Linked DNA regions of Homo sapiens. The protein of the gene in region 2 interacts with the protein of the main gene of each other region in a biochemical or structural test. Each region holds a gene or a part of one and is shown on either strand. Other genes may lie near its edges. The genes, in order: ABCA4, EPS15 and NAGPA.

Region 1 (3,749 bases), about 43 Mb from region 2:
GCTACAGTCCTGTTATCATGTGACCCCCTTTGAGGGTCACAAAGAGCACAGTGAGAATAAAATGAACTGAGAATTGTAATTTCTTATGGGAAAGAGAGAACAATGGCATATTGGATTTTCCTCCGCAGTCCACAGATGCCTCACATAGGCAGGGGCTGGGAGGTCTTGTTGCCATTGTATACCAATGAACCTAGCACGGTGCCTGGAGATTATTTTTTGATAGAAGGAAAGAATGAATACATGAAAAAATTTAATCATGAGGTTTTTTTTTCCAGTTTTATCAGGATTTTCATGCAAGAAGGGAAGCTCCTAGAAGAAAGGACTGAGTTTCTGATTACTCTTAATACTTGGCCCCTGGAGACAACAGATAACTTCAGCACCAGGCTTGACAGAGGAAAGTGACCTGAGGACAATGGTGCTTCCCAGACAAGTCAGGTTTAACTTGTCTCTTCCCCCTGCAGCCTCCCTGCGTCCTGGGCCAGCCACACACAGGTTTTGGAGCCATCCATGCGCATGGTTGAAGCGTGTCCCATGCTGCTCTCTTTTATGCTGGTTGTTAAGCTATTGTCCCTCGGCCCCACATGCACCAACCTGCCAGGGCTTTCTCCTCAGGGGTCCAGACCCGAGGTCAGGTTCAGAGATCCAGCAGCAGCCTCCATGCACGCCTTCCTCCCAAGTCCTAATGTCAGCTCCACAGACCTCTCATCTATGCTCCAAGTCTTAATAATTCCTGTCTCTTCCCTTGGTTCTCTCAGCCCTAGGGGTGGGAGCTGTGTCCTGCAATTGCTACCTCCATGATACCTTAGAGTTTCCTTTTACTCTCTCAGGTACCAGCTCTGTACTTAGCTAACACCTTTTCATATTAAACTCTAAGGAGACCCTAACTGAGACACTCATTCATAGGCCTTCACCTGTTCCAGTTGGCCCCATCACCTACATGAACTTATTCTGAACCGAGATTTGGAACAAATACTGTTCTCTTCTCGCCTAAAGCAGGTCTCCCTCCCTTTCCTCCTGATCTCTCCAGTGGCTTGCAGCTCCCAGGGTCCTAATCTCACCCCTACCCAGCCCCCATCCCTTATCCCCTCCTTCCTCTTTCAGCTCCTTTAGTCATCGGCATTTGCACAACTCTGCAAGGCTGTAGCAAAGTGCATTCTTTCTTTACAGTTCTATAGTCACTCCTTATCCTTTCCCAGAAAAAATTGCACAAAGCCAGTTGTCATTTACAAGTACAGTCTTGGTGTTCTCTGATCTCCGGCACCTTTTGCTCGCACTTCTCATGGACTATTCCACCTATGCTACTTTATGTTGCTCTTGGTCTCCAAACGTACTTTGGGTTTTCCCAGGCAGAACAGAAGCCAGTCCAGGGTGGAATCTGTGTCGTGCTTTTAGGGCTCCAGTCTAACCCAGGCTGGTGTCTGCTCATTGAAAGAGTTCAGGAAATGTGCGTGATGGTTAATAACGTATTGCATCTCACAGAATCTAGGACGCAGTCAATTGTAAGACACACTGTTACTTTTCTGCACCACTAAGAAAGAAAAATAATGTGTCCAGTTAAACTGTGACTTGATCGTGAGCTGCATCCCAATTTCAGAAATGCTAACATGTGAAAAAACAATGTGCCTCAGAGAATCAATGAAATAAGGCCTCACTAAGCTGGGAAGCTGTTCGAGGGGGTTCTTGCTTGCCTTTGGCCTGCTCTTCAGGGCTTAAAGTTCTTCCCACTGCTCAGCGTGGATGCCCTAGAGAGCGGTAGACTGGACAGGCAGGTGTAAAACGGGGGGTGGGGGAGGGGCGGGCAGGCAATGGATTGACAGGCACGGTAGGCAAAAGATTTTCATGTGGCTGAGGACAGAGAAACACATCTTCCTGGGAAGGGCACTGTCAGAGGGGCCCACAGAAAGGCCGTCCAGCTAAACACTGCTTCAGTGCTAATCGGCGACAAGCCCACTGACTGCTCACAACCCCCCACCCTGCCCCACCACCCTACCCCACCACCCCACCCCACACTTCCAACCTGTTTATTTGCTCCACACCTCATTTTTAAACCACAGACAGTAACTGTTACCTTTTGCCTTTTCCGCAGGGTCCAGTTCTTCCAGAGCAAAAGCTGTATCTGTCTCACGAAGCCCATGCTAATGACCACACGAAGACCAGATTGGTCAGAGCTGAGGCCCCTCAGACAGCAAAGGACATAAACGCCGTTAAGAGCGCCTCTGGCTCCGGACGCTGTGTCCTTCTCCTGGTGATTAAAGGCTACTTTTCCCCTTCAAAGCATAATCCCTTTTAATTACACATAAGCCCTTAGTTGGGGAGAGGAGGCCGACACTGTGTTGGCTCCCTTTTATGGAGAGAAAGAGAACCCTAAAGACACAAGTGGCTGGGCACCAGGGAAATTGAGGTGGGGGATGCAATGGGAAACCAAGACCCTCAGGCACTCTCCTCCATGAGAGGGGTTCCTGAGGGGGATGTCTTTAGGTATCTTTGACCTTAAGTTTGGAACAAAATCTCTTTGCATAAATATAGGCTGGGCATTTGTCCTCGGCAAGAGCCTGCCATGAGCCGGCAGTCAGGGTTTGACTGGCCCTTTAAGTCCAATCGACTCACTCGGCAGATCTGAAGTGATCCCTCCCTCTTTTAGTCTTTTATCTTGCTCCGTAATGACTGAAGTCATTATGGTCAGCTAGTTGGGTTATCTCTGAGCTTAGCAGAGGGTAATGATGTTTATCTCTTGTGCTGAAATTGATCGACTAGTAGTGGCTGCTTGGTGCTGTGATGGAAAAGGCACTGGAACACTCCAGGCCCAGCAGGACAGAGCCGTGACTGACTTGCAATGTCTGACTGGGGTGCGGGTATGAGGAGAGGCAGCAGGTGGGCCCATTACTGTCATTCCAGCCCTGCAATGGGGTGGTGCTGGGTTGACTCATCACCAGGTGGGGGATCTGTGATCCCAAGGGACACCCCAAACAGAAGCCTCCCTGGCACTTCGCAGTGGAACTTTTTGTCTCTGCCTCCTCAAATCTCAGAATGTGTTCTCTTTGAAAGACTCTAGACCCTTGAGACCTGGATGGGGCGGAGGGAGAACCACAGAGAGGAATGGATGCTGACTTCATAGAGTTTGCGGTCTGGTTGTAAACACGGGACTTGAACTCGAATAACTCAAGGAGTGTGATGAGGGCCCATAGGCTGTGCATGGTGGAGCTTCCAAGAAGAGAGAGATAGTTTCTGCTTATGATGGCAAAAAGGCTCCTTGGAGGTGATGGCATTTAAGACAAGCTTGCAGAATTACAAAATAATATTTTATAGTAAGTTTATTATTTATAAACTGCTTTTGCATATGTTATTTCATTTTAGCCTCACTACAATTTTGTGAGGTCCATATTTGCTGTTTTACAGATGAGGAACGTGAAGCTTAGTGAGATTAAGTACTTTGCTCACGGTCCCACATGGCAACGGTGGGTACTTGAACAAGTGAGTCATTTAAACTCTGCAAAGACAGGGAGGAATAGCTTATCTTGCCCAGGAAAACCACAAGTGAAACATGGCTGGAGTGAAGGCTATGAGGCTATGAATGGAGGATGCTGGAAAAGGAGACAGGAACCAGACTGAAAAATTGATGATGATGATGATGATGATGATGATGATGATGATGATGACTGATTCAACTGAGATTTACTGAGCACCTGTGAAGTGACTGGAGTGGCCCACAAGTGCAGGCTACCCCCAAGCAAGCTCTGGCAGAATCATTA
Region 2 (3,649 bases):
AGAAGAAACTAGGTTATTGTTTATAAAACAGGCAACACTTATGGAGCATTTATGTACCAAGCACCATGCTAAAATGTCTTACAGGTTTTGCCTCATTAATCCTCACAGTGGCCCTAAGGGGTAGGGTATTTATTAATCCTCCAATTTTGAAGATGAAGAATCTGATACTAAGGTGATTTAGCTAGTAAGTGGCACACCAGTACTTAAACCTAGACCATCTAGCCACAAAGCCCACACTCTTAATCACTACTCCAATGATAATCATCAGATAGATATACAAGATGTATGATAGTTTCAATATATAACAGGTGACAAAAAAACCTATTGTATAAAATGACTGAAAAATGAACAGTAAACTAGGCAAGAGGTTGAAGGAGCAGAAGTTGGAAAGTATAACTGACTAAAGGACACAGAGGATCCATTTGAATATATTTCTTGCTTTACAAAGACTTACTGAACTAATTTCCTGTTGTGAATCTTGTAGGTGCTGCTGAAGAGGTTCCAACTGAGCCTTCCCTGACTCTACACTCTCCTCCAATTCTGCTGTTTCTTGCTGTAGACGGCTCAGCTCTTCTCTAGCTTTTGCCAATTCTTCTTCGTAAGTGGAGATCTGCGATTCCTGACTAGTTAATTCAGCTTTCAGAGAAGAGATCTATAATGTGAAAGTGAATGAGAAGAAATGGGGATTAAAAGAAGAGATGTCATTAAAATGTTCCAAAATGCAATACATTTATTTGTTTAGTTTACTATTTTGGTGTTTTTTTTGACAGCAATAGCAAATAATTTATTTAATTTAATTTTTGAGAGAGAGAGTCTTGCTATGTTGCCCAGGCTGGATTCAAACTCCTGGGCTCAAGTGATCCTCCTGAGTAGCTGGGACTATAGGAACATGCCCAGCCATACCTAGCCCTATTATGGAGTTTTTGATGTTGTTGTTGTTGTTGATGTTTTATTTTTTTGAGACAGTCTCACTCTGTCACCCAGGCTGGAGTGCAATGGCACGATCACAGCTCACTTCAGACTTCAGGCTCAACTTTCCCAGGCTCAGGTGATCCTCTCACCTCAGCCTCTCGAGTAGGTGGGATTACAGATGTGGGCCACCACGCCTGGCTTTCAATTTTTTTTTTTTTTTTTTTTGAGACAGAGTCTCGCTCTGTTGCCCAGGCTGGAGTGCAGTGGCGTGATCTCAGCTCACTGCAAGCTCCGCCTCCTGGGTTCACACCATTCTCCTGGCTCAGCCTGCCGAGTAGCTGGGACTACAGGCACCCGCCACCGCCCTGGCTAATTTTTTGTATTTTTAGTAGAGACGGGGTTTCACCGTGGTCTCGATCTCCTGACTTCGTGATCCGCCTGCCTCGGCCTCCCAAAGTGCTGGGATTAAAGGCGTGAGCCACTGCACCCAACCAGCTTTCATATTTTTTGTAGAGATGGGATTTCTCCATGTTTCCCAGGCTGGTCTCCAACTCCTGGGCTCCAGCAATTCCCCCCGCCTCAGACTCCCAAAGTGTTGGGATTACAGGTGTGAGCCACTGTGCCCAGCCAATTATGATGTTTTTTGATGTATGGTTTTCGTAAAGAAGGGTAACTGGGGGAGGGACAGAGGAGAGTTGAAGGTATAGGCACCATATTTCCAACAAAAATTTGGAAAAACAGTTCATTAACTGCCCTTCTATTTCCTCTAAAGAAGGCCTGTAATTTCTGGATGAACCTTGCTCCATCGCCCCCATGAACCCAAATGCTGACTGGATTGCCAACCACCACCATCAATAACAAAAAGTAGAGAATGTTTTCATCTTAAGCCAGGAAAAGCAACTAATGTATAGGTGCAGGCAGCAGGAAACAGCCAGACATTACCAGTTGGGCCTCCTCAGCACATTTCTTTCTGACTTCCTTGAGTTGCTCCTCCAGCTGGGCTTTCTGCTCATCCAGTTCATCAAGGAGTTCCTGTACCTGCTGTTTCTGGGCCTGTAGTTTTTGCAGATTAGTATTCTCCCTTTGAACTTCATCTTGAAGATCCTAAAATCCAAGAAAATTAATATATTTATTTTCTTTGCGGGCAGGGGAGGGTTAAGTTAGTAATTTTAAATCTACCTTAAGAAAGAATAAAGTCTTACTGAGTATACTGTGTTGATGAGACTAGGGTACTTAACAGCTTTAAATACAATCTTTACTTGAAGACATCTTTCCTAGAATCCATATTTAGATATTCAATTTGCTAACTCAAATCTGTCCTTGGACATGTGATGGGCTTTGCTAACATGTTGAAAATAGAACTCCTGGAATTTCCCCACAAATCTGTTTTAAGCTCAATCTTTCCCCTCTCAGATTCTCTGGTCAAAAAAAAACCCCACATGGAGAAACCCTGTCTCTAACAAAAATGCAAAAAAAAAAAAAAAAATTTAGCTGGGCGTGGTGGCGCATGCCTGTAATCCCAGCTACTCGGGAGGCTAAAGCAGGAGAATTGCTTGAACCCAGGAGGTGGAGGTTGCAGCGAGCCGAGATCATGCATTGCACTCCAGCCTGGGCAACAAGAGTGAAACTCCATCTCAAAAAAAAAAAAATTAGCTGGACGTGGTAGTACGTGCCTGTGGTCCCAGTTACTTGGGAGGCTGAGATGGGAGGATCTCTTGAGCCCAGGAGGTCAAGGCTGCAGTGAGCTGTGATCATGCCACAGCATGCCCAGACTGGGCAACAGAGTGAGACACTGTCTCCAAAAAAAAAAAAAAGAAAAATTAATTCCAGGTAAATAATGGACCTGAATGTAAAAGTCTAACTTTAAAATGTGTAGAAGAAATGCAGATCTCAGTGTAGGAAAAGATTTCTTAAAACAAAAAAAGAACCATTTTGAAAATGTTATTTATTCATCCATGTACATACCAGACCTCATGCTTAATAACAAGAACTACAGAAATTTTTAAAAAGCCAGGCGCAGTGGCTCAGGGATTAATAACTCCGAAGTATCTGTCAGCAGGAGGTAGGCAAAGATTTCAAAGCGGGTGAGGTAAAACTGAACACAAATTTCTAAAAATAATATCTATTCAAAGGTCCCAACAGTCATTCACCAGAATAAGAATCTAAGAACAGAAGAGAAACTTACAGGTAAAAGGTCTCTGAATTACTGCATAGGTTACACAAGATAGCACCATTATGATAATAGCCAACACTTTAAATGCTACTTAAAATGTGCTAGGTTGTGCTCTAGGCTCTTTAAATATACTAACTTATTTATAGTCTATATGACAGATCTACGAGTTAGGTACTGATATCATTTCATATTTTACAGATGAGAAAACTGAAGTACTGATGTGTAGGTAATGTGTCCAAAGTTAAAAATAGTAAGCTATGGATTCAAAGTGGGTTCTGACTCCACAGCCTGAGCTCTTAACCACCATGTGACATACCATCTGCAGACTAAATGTCTCACATGTGTCACTATTTTTCAAATATATGCAGATGTTTCTGTGATTAAATAGAACACTGAACAATGCTTTCAATAATTGCTTTTTATCTTATATTTTCTTAACCAACTGGTTAGTCTAAAAATATCATGTTGCTTTCTTTAAAAAATTCCTTTAAAGCCCAGGCAGAGCAGGCAGACAAAAAGGGAAACTCAAAGGCAGTAGCCTTTGAATTCCTCAATGATACTTGA
Region 3 (3,445 bases), on a different chromosome or scaffold from region 2:
ATAAGACCGTGCTGGATTTGAGGTGGGCCCTGGAGCCAGAGCCCGGGGACCCTTGTTTTAGCCGAGCCCTTTGTGGAACGGGCCGCAGCAGCCACAGGGGAGTCACACAGTGATGTGCAGGTGAGGCCGGGGCAGAAGACAAGAGGCAAGCATTTCCCAGACCAGAAGGTGGAGACAGAAGCAGCAGAGGAGCAGTGGGGGCTGCCGGGGGCCACCGTCTCCCCATCCGCTAGTGGCGTGGCAGCTCCTACCTTCACTGCAGTTGGACCCGGTCCATCCGGCATCACAGCGGCAGCCGGCTGCCGAGACAAGACCGGGGAGGCCAGGTGAGGGCCTAGGGCAAGGCAGGGCTGGGCAGAGCCCCCTCCCCAGAACCCCCACTCACTCTCCGTGCACAGTCCGTGCTGGCTGCAGTTAGAGGGGCCACAGTCCAGCTCATCACAGCCGGGACCCCGCCAGAAGTGCCCGGTGCATTGGCAGTGCCCGTCCACGCAGGTCCCGTGGCCGTGGCAGTCAGGCGGCTGGCAGCGGGGTTCGTGCACACACACCACGGTGGACACTTGGCGGGGACAGCGCCACATGTTGTCCTGGCTGTAGAGGGATGTGATGTGTGAGGAGAGGACACCCCCAGACGGCCCCTCAACTCCCTCCAGGCTGCCCCCAACCACCCCTCTCTCCATTCTCACCTGTCTACCTACCTACCTACAAGATGGCGTCTATCTATTTTTGAGATGAGGTATTGCGATCCTTCCACCCGAGCCTCCTGAGCAGCTGTAACCGTAAGGTGTGCACCATCACGCCTGCCTAATTTTTTTTTATTTTTTCATAAAGACAGGGTCTATGTTGCCCACACTGGTCTTAAACTCCTGGGCCCAAGCGAACCTCCCACCTCGGCCTCCCAAAGCACTGGGATTCCAGGCGTGAGCCCCTGTGCCCAGCCCTCTCCAGTCTTTTATAGGTTCCTCCGCTCCCTACAATCCCTCCCAGCCCTGGGCCTTTCACATGTGGTGCCCTCTGCCCGGAAGGCTCTCCCACCCCCACCCAGCTACCACCTCCTTCAGATCTCAGTTCTTATTCTGTCATCCTCAGGGAGGTCTTTGCTGACCAACTGACCCTGCTCCTAGGCCTGGGTAGTACTGGCATCCTGGGGGAGGGACTGCAGCAATTTCTGCTCTCTTGAACCCCCGGGGCCTGGCACATAGCAGGCACTCAATATTGGCTGAATGAGACAGGCTGGGGCAGACCTGGACTTCAGCCCTCACGAAGGCGGCTCTCACGTGCTTACCAGTGATCTGACGGGTAACTGGCCAAGGTCCCGTTGAGCACAAAGGTGGCAGAGCCACCCCCATCCAGGTTGATGGCGTTGACCACGTCCTGTTTCAGCAGGAACTCCGCCATTTCCCACAGGTTGATGCTGCGGCACAAAGCGGCGCTGCTCAGGCTCAGCGCCCACCATCATTTCTCATTTAACTCCTTTTCCTTCCACAGTGCAGAGCATCACGCCCACAGTGCAGGCACATTTCTAAGTGGCCCCCGCCCCCAAGCATGTCTCATCCTAGCCCCCGGAAGCTGTGAACACGTGAGATCACACCCATGCCTGTGCTGTTACATGGCATAGGAATCCTTAAGGGAGGGGAAACGGCCCGGAGGATCTGGGTGCAGCCACTGGAATCACAGGAGTGTTCAACACAGAGAGCCTTCTCTGGCTGGTGACAGAATAGGAAGTGAGATTTGAAATACGAGGGGGATGAGAGGGTGGCCGGACAACTGGGGGAGAGGACACACATGGGAAGGAACCTGGGCAGCTTGAAGGAGCTGAGGCCCCAGATGGCGGCCAGCAGGGAAACCAAGACCTCAGTCACAACTGAGGAGGCGACGGGGATTCTTCCAACAACCTAAACAAGAGGATTCTTTCCAGATAAGAGAAGAGCCCTGCCTAACCAGCATCTTGGTTTTGTCCATGGGACACCCTGAACATAGAACATTCCAAGTTGACCAGCCTGGCCAACATGATGAAACCCTGTGTCTACTAAAAATACAAAAATTAGCCAGGTGCGGTGACTCACGCCTGTTAATTCCAGCACTTTGGAAGGCCGAGGTAGATGGATCACCTGAGGTCAGGAGTTCGAGACCAGCCTGGCCAACATGATGAAACCCCATCTCTACTAAAAATACAAAAATTAGCTGGGTGTGGTGGCGGGTGCCCGTAATCCCAGTTACCTGGGAGGCTAAGGTGGGAGGATCACCTGAACCTGAGAGGTAGAGGTTGCAGTGAGCTGAGATTGCACCACTGCACTCTGGCCTGGGCGACGGAGTAAGACCCTGTCTCAAAGAAACAAACAAACAAAAGAACATTCCCTGCTGAGTGTTGCTAAATTTGTGCTGGTTATGCAACCAGAGCAAACCAAAACACTCTCTTTACAGGGGCTAGAAATGAGGCTCAGGGAGGCCGAGGGACTTGTCTACGGCATAGGTGGGTAGACAAGTCATCGATGGCTAAGCTGGGATTGGAACCAAGATCTTCTCCCTGCTCACTTTGTGACCATTTCCTTGTATCCTATCTAGGGTTCAGGAAAGGTGAGGCCTAAAGCTGAAGATGATGAGTTCTTGGAATCGGCAAAGATCTCAGAACCCTCATCCTGTGGGAAGGTGAGGGGGCCCTGGGAGGGGGGACAGATAGGTGTCAACATCCCAGAAAGCAGGTAGAGTCAGAGGGTGGCTGTCATTGGGTCAACGTTCCTCCTAGCAGGACTGAGCCCCGGCCGGGGGGCCTCAGCTCCCAGGACTCACCCACGCTGCTCCGTTTGGCCGTCTGCATGAAAGAGCACCAGCTGCCCTTTCCGGTCGTGGCCAATGGCCGTCCTGGCTGATATCACATTCACAAATTTGCTAAAGGAACCTGAAGGAAAAGCAGCCTGGCTGATCACCGCCCCTTGGGAGGCCTCCTGCTTCTTGCCTAACTCCACTTCCCACTGGTCTGAGCTACCTGGTACCTCCCTGGGAAGCACAGCAGCCTCCTTGCTCGTCTCCCTGCCTCCCCTCTGCACATCCCAGTCTCCCCAGGGCAGCCGGGGGGTCTCTTCTTACAGGTAAACCAAGCTATGCCAGCCTCCAGGTGAAGACCCTCTAATGGTTTCCCCTGTTCTTAGAACAAAATCCAAAGAGCCAGCATGCCCTCCCCAGCCTCTTCCTCCTCCTGCCTCAGCTCCTGGGTGTCCCCTCACCACCCTGCAGCCACTTTGCACTTCCTGTTCCCTCTGGCTGGGAACTGTGCTTTTCTCTAGCTTGCTCCTTTGTCAGATCACCTCCTTAGTGAGGCCTTCCTTGACCGCCCACTCTTTTTTTTTTTTTGAGACAAAGAGTCTCGCTGTGTTGCCCGGGCTGGAGTGCAGTGGCATGATCTCAGCTCACTGCAACCTCCACCTCCCAGGTTCAAGCAATTCTC

Evidence for each region.
Region 1: the proteins of EPS15 (region 2) and ABCA4 interact in a surface display test, tested with the Homo sapiens proteins (one large-scale study listed by IntAct).
Region 3: the proteins of EPS15 (region 2) and NAGPA form a complex in vitro, tested with the Homo sapiens proteins (one study listed by BioGRID).

The regions. Positions count from the first base shown.
Region 1 is NC_000001.11:94,118,912-94,122,660, forward strand, and holds the start of ABCA4 (retinal-specific phospholipid-transporting ATPase ABCA4), read right to left. Parts: upstream 2,238-3,749; 5' UTR 2,135-2,237; coding exon 2,069-2,134; intron 1-2,068. UniProt on the Homo sapiens protein: Flippase that catalyzes in an ATP-dependent manner the transport of retinal-phosphatidylethanolamine conjugates like 11-cis and all-trans isomers of N-retinylidene-phosphatidylethanolamine (N-Ret-PE) from the lumen to the cytoplasmic leaflet of photoreceptor outer segment disk membranes, where 11-cis-retinylidene-phosphatidylethanolamine is then isomerized to its all-trans isomer and reduced by RDH8 to produce all-trans-retinol.
Region 2 is NC_000001.11:51,407,681-51,411,329, forward strand, and holds part of EPS15 (epidermal growth factor receptor substrate 15), read right to left. Parts: intron 2,017-3,649; coding exon 1,855-2,016; intron 653-1,854; coding exon 455-652; intron 1-454. UniProt on the Homo sapiens protein: Involved in cell growth regulation. May be involved in the regulation of mitogenic signals and control of cell proliferation. Involved in the internalization of ligand-inducible receptors of the receptor tyrosine kinase (RTK) type, in particular EGFR.
Region 3 is NC_000016.10:5,027,595-5,031,039, forward strand, and holds part of NAGPA (N-acetylglucosamine-1-phosphodiester alpha-N-acetylglucosaminidase precursor), read right to left. Parts: intron 2,900-3,445; coding exon 2,791-2,899; intron 1,415-2,790; coding exon 1,286-1,414; intron 592-1,285; coding exon 386-591; intron 300-385; coding exon 252-299; intron 1-251. UniProt on the Homo sapiens protein: Catalyzes the second step in the formation of the mannose 6-phosphate targeting signal on lysosomal enzyme oligosaccharides by removing GlcNAc residues from GlcNAc-alpha-P-mannose moieties, which are formed in the first step.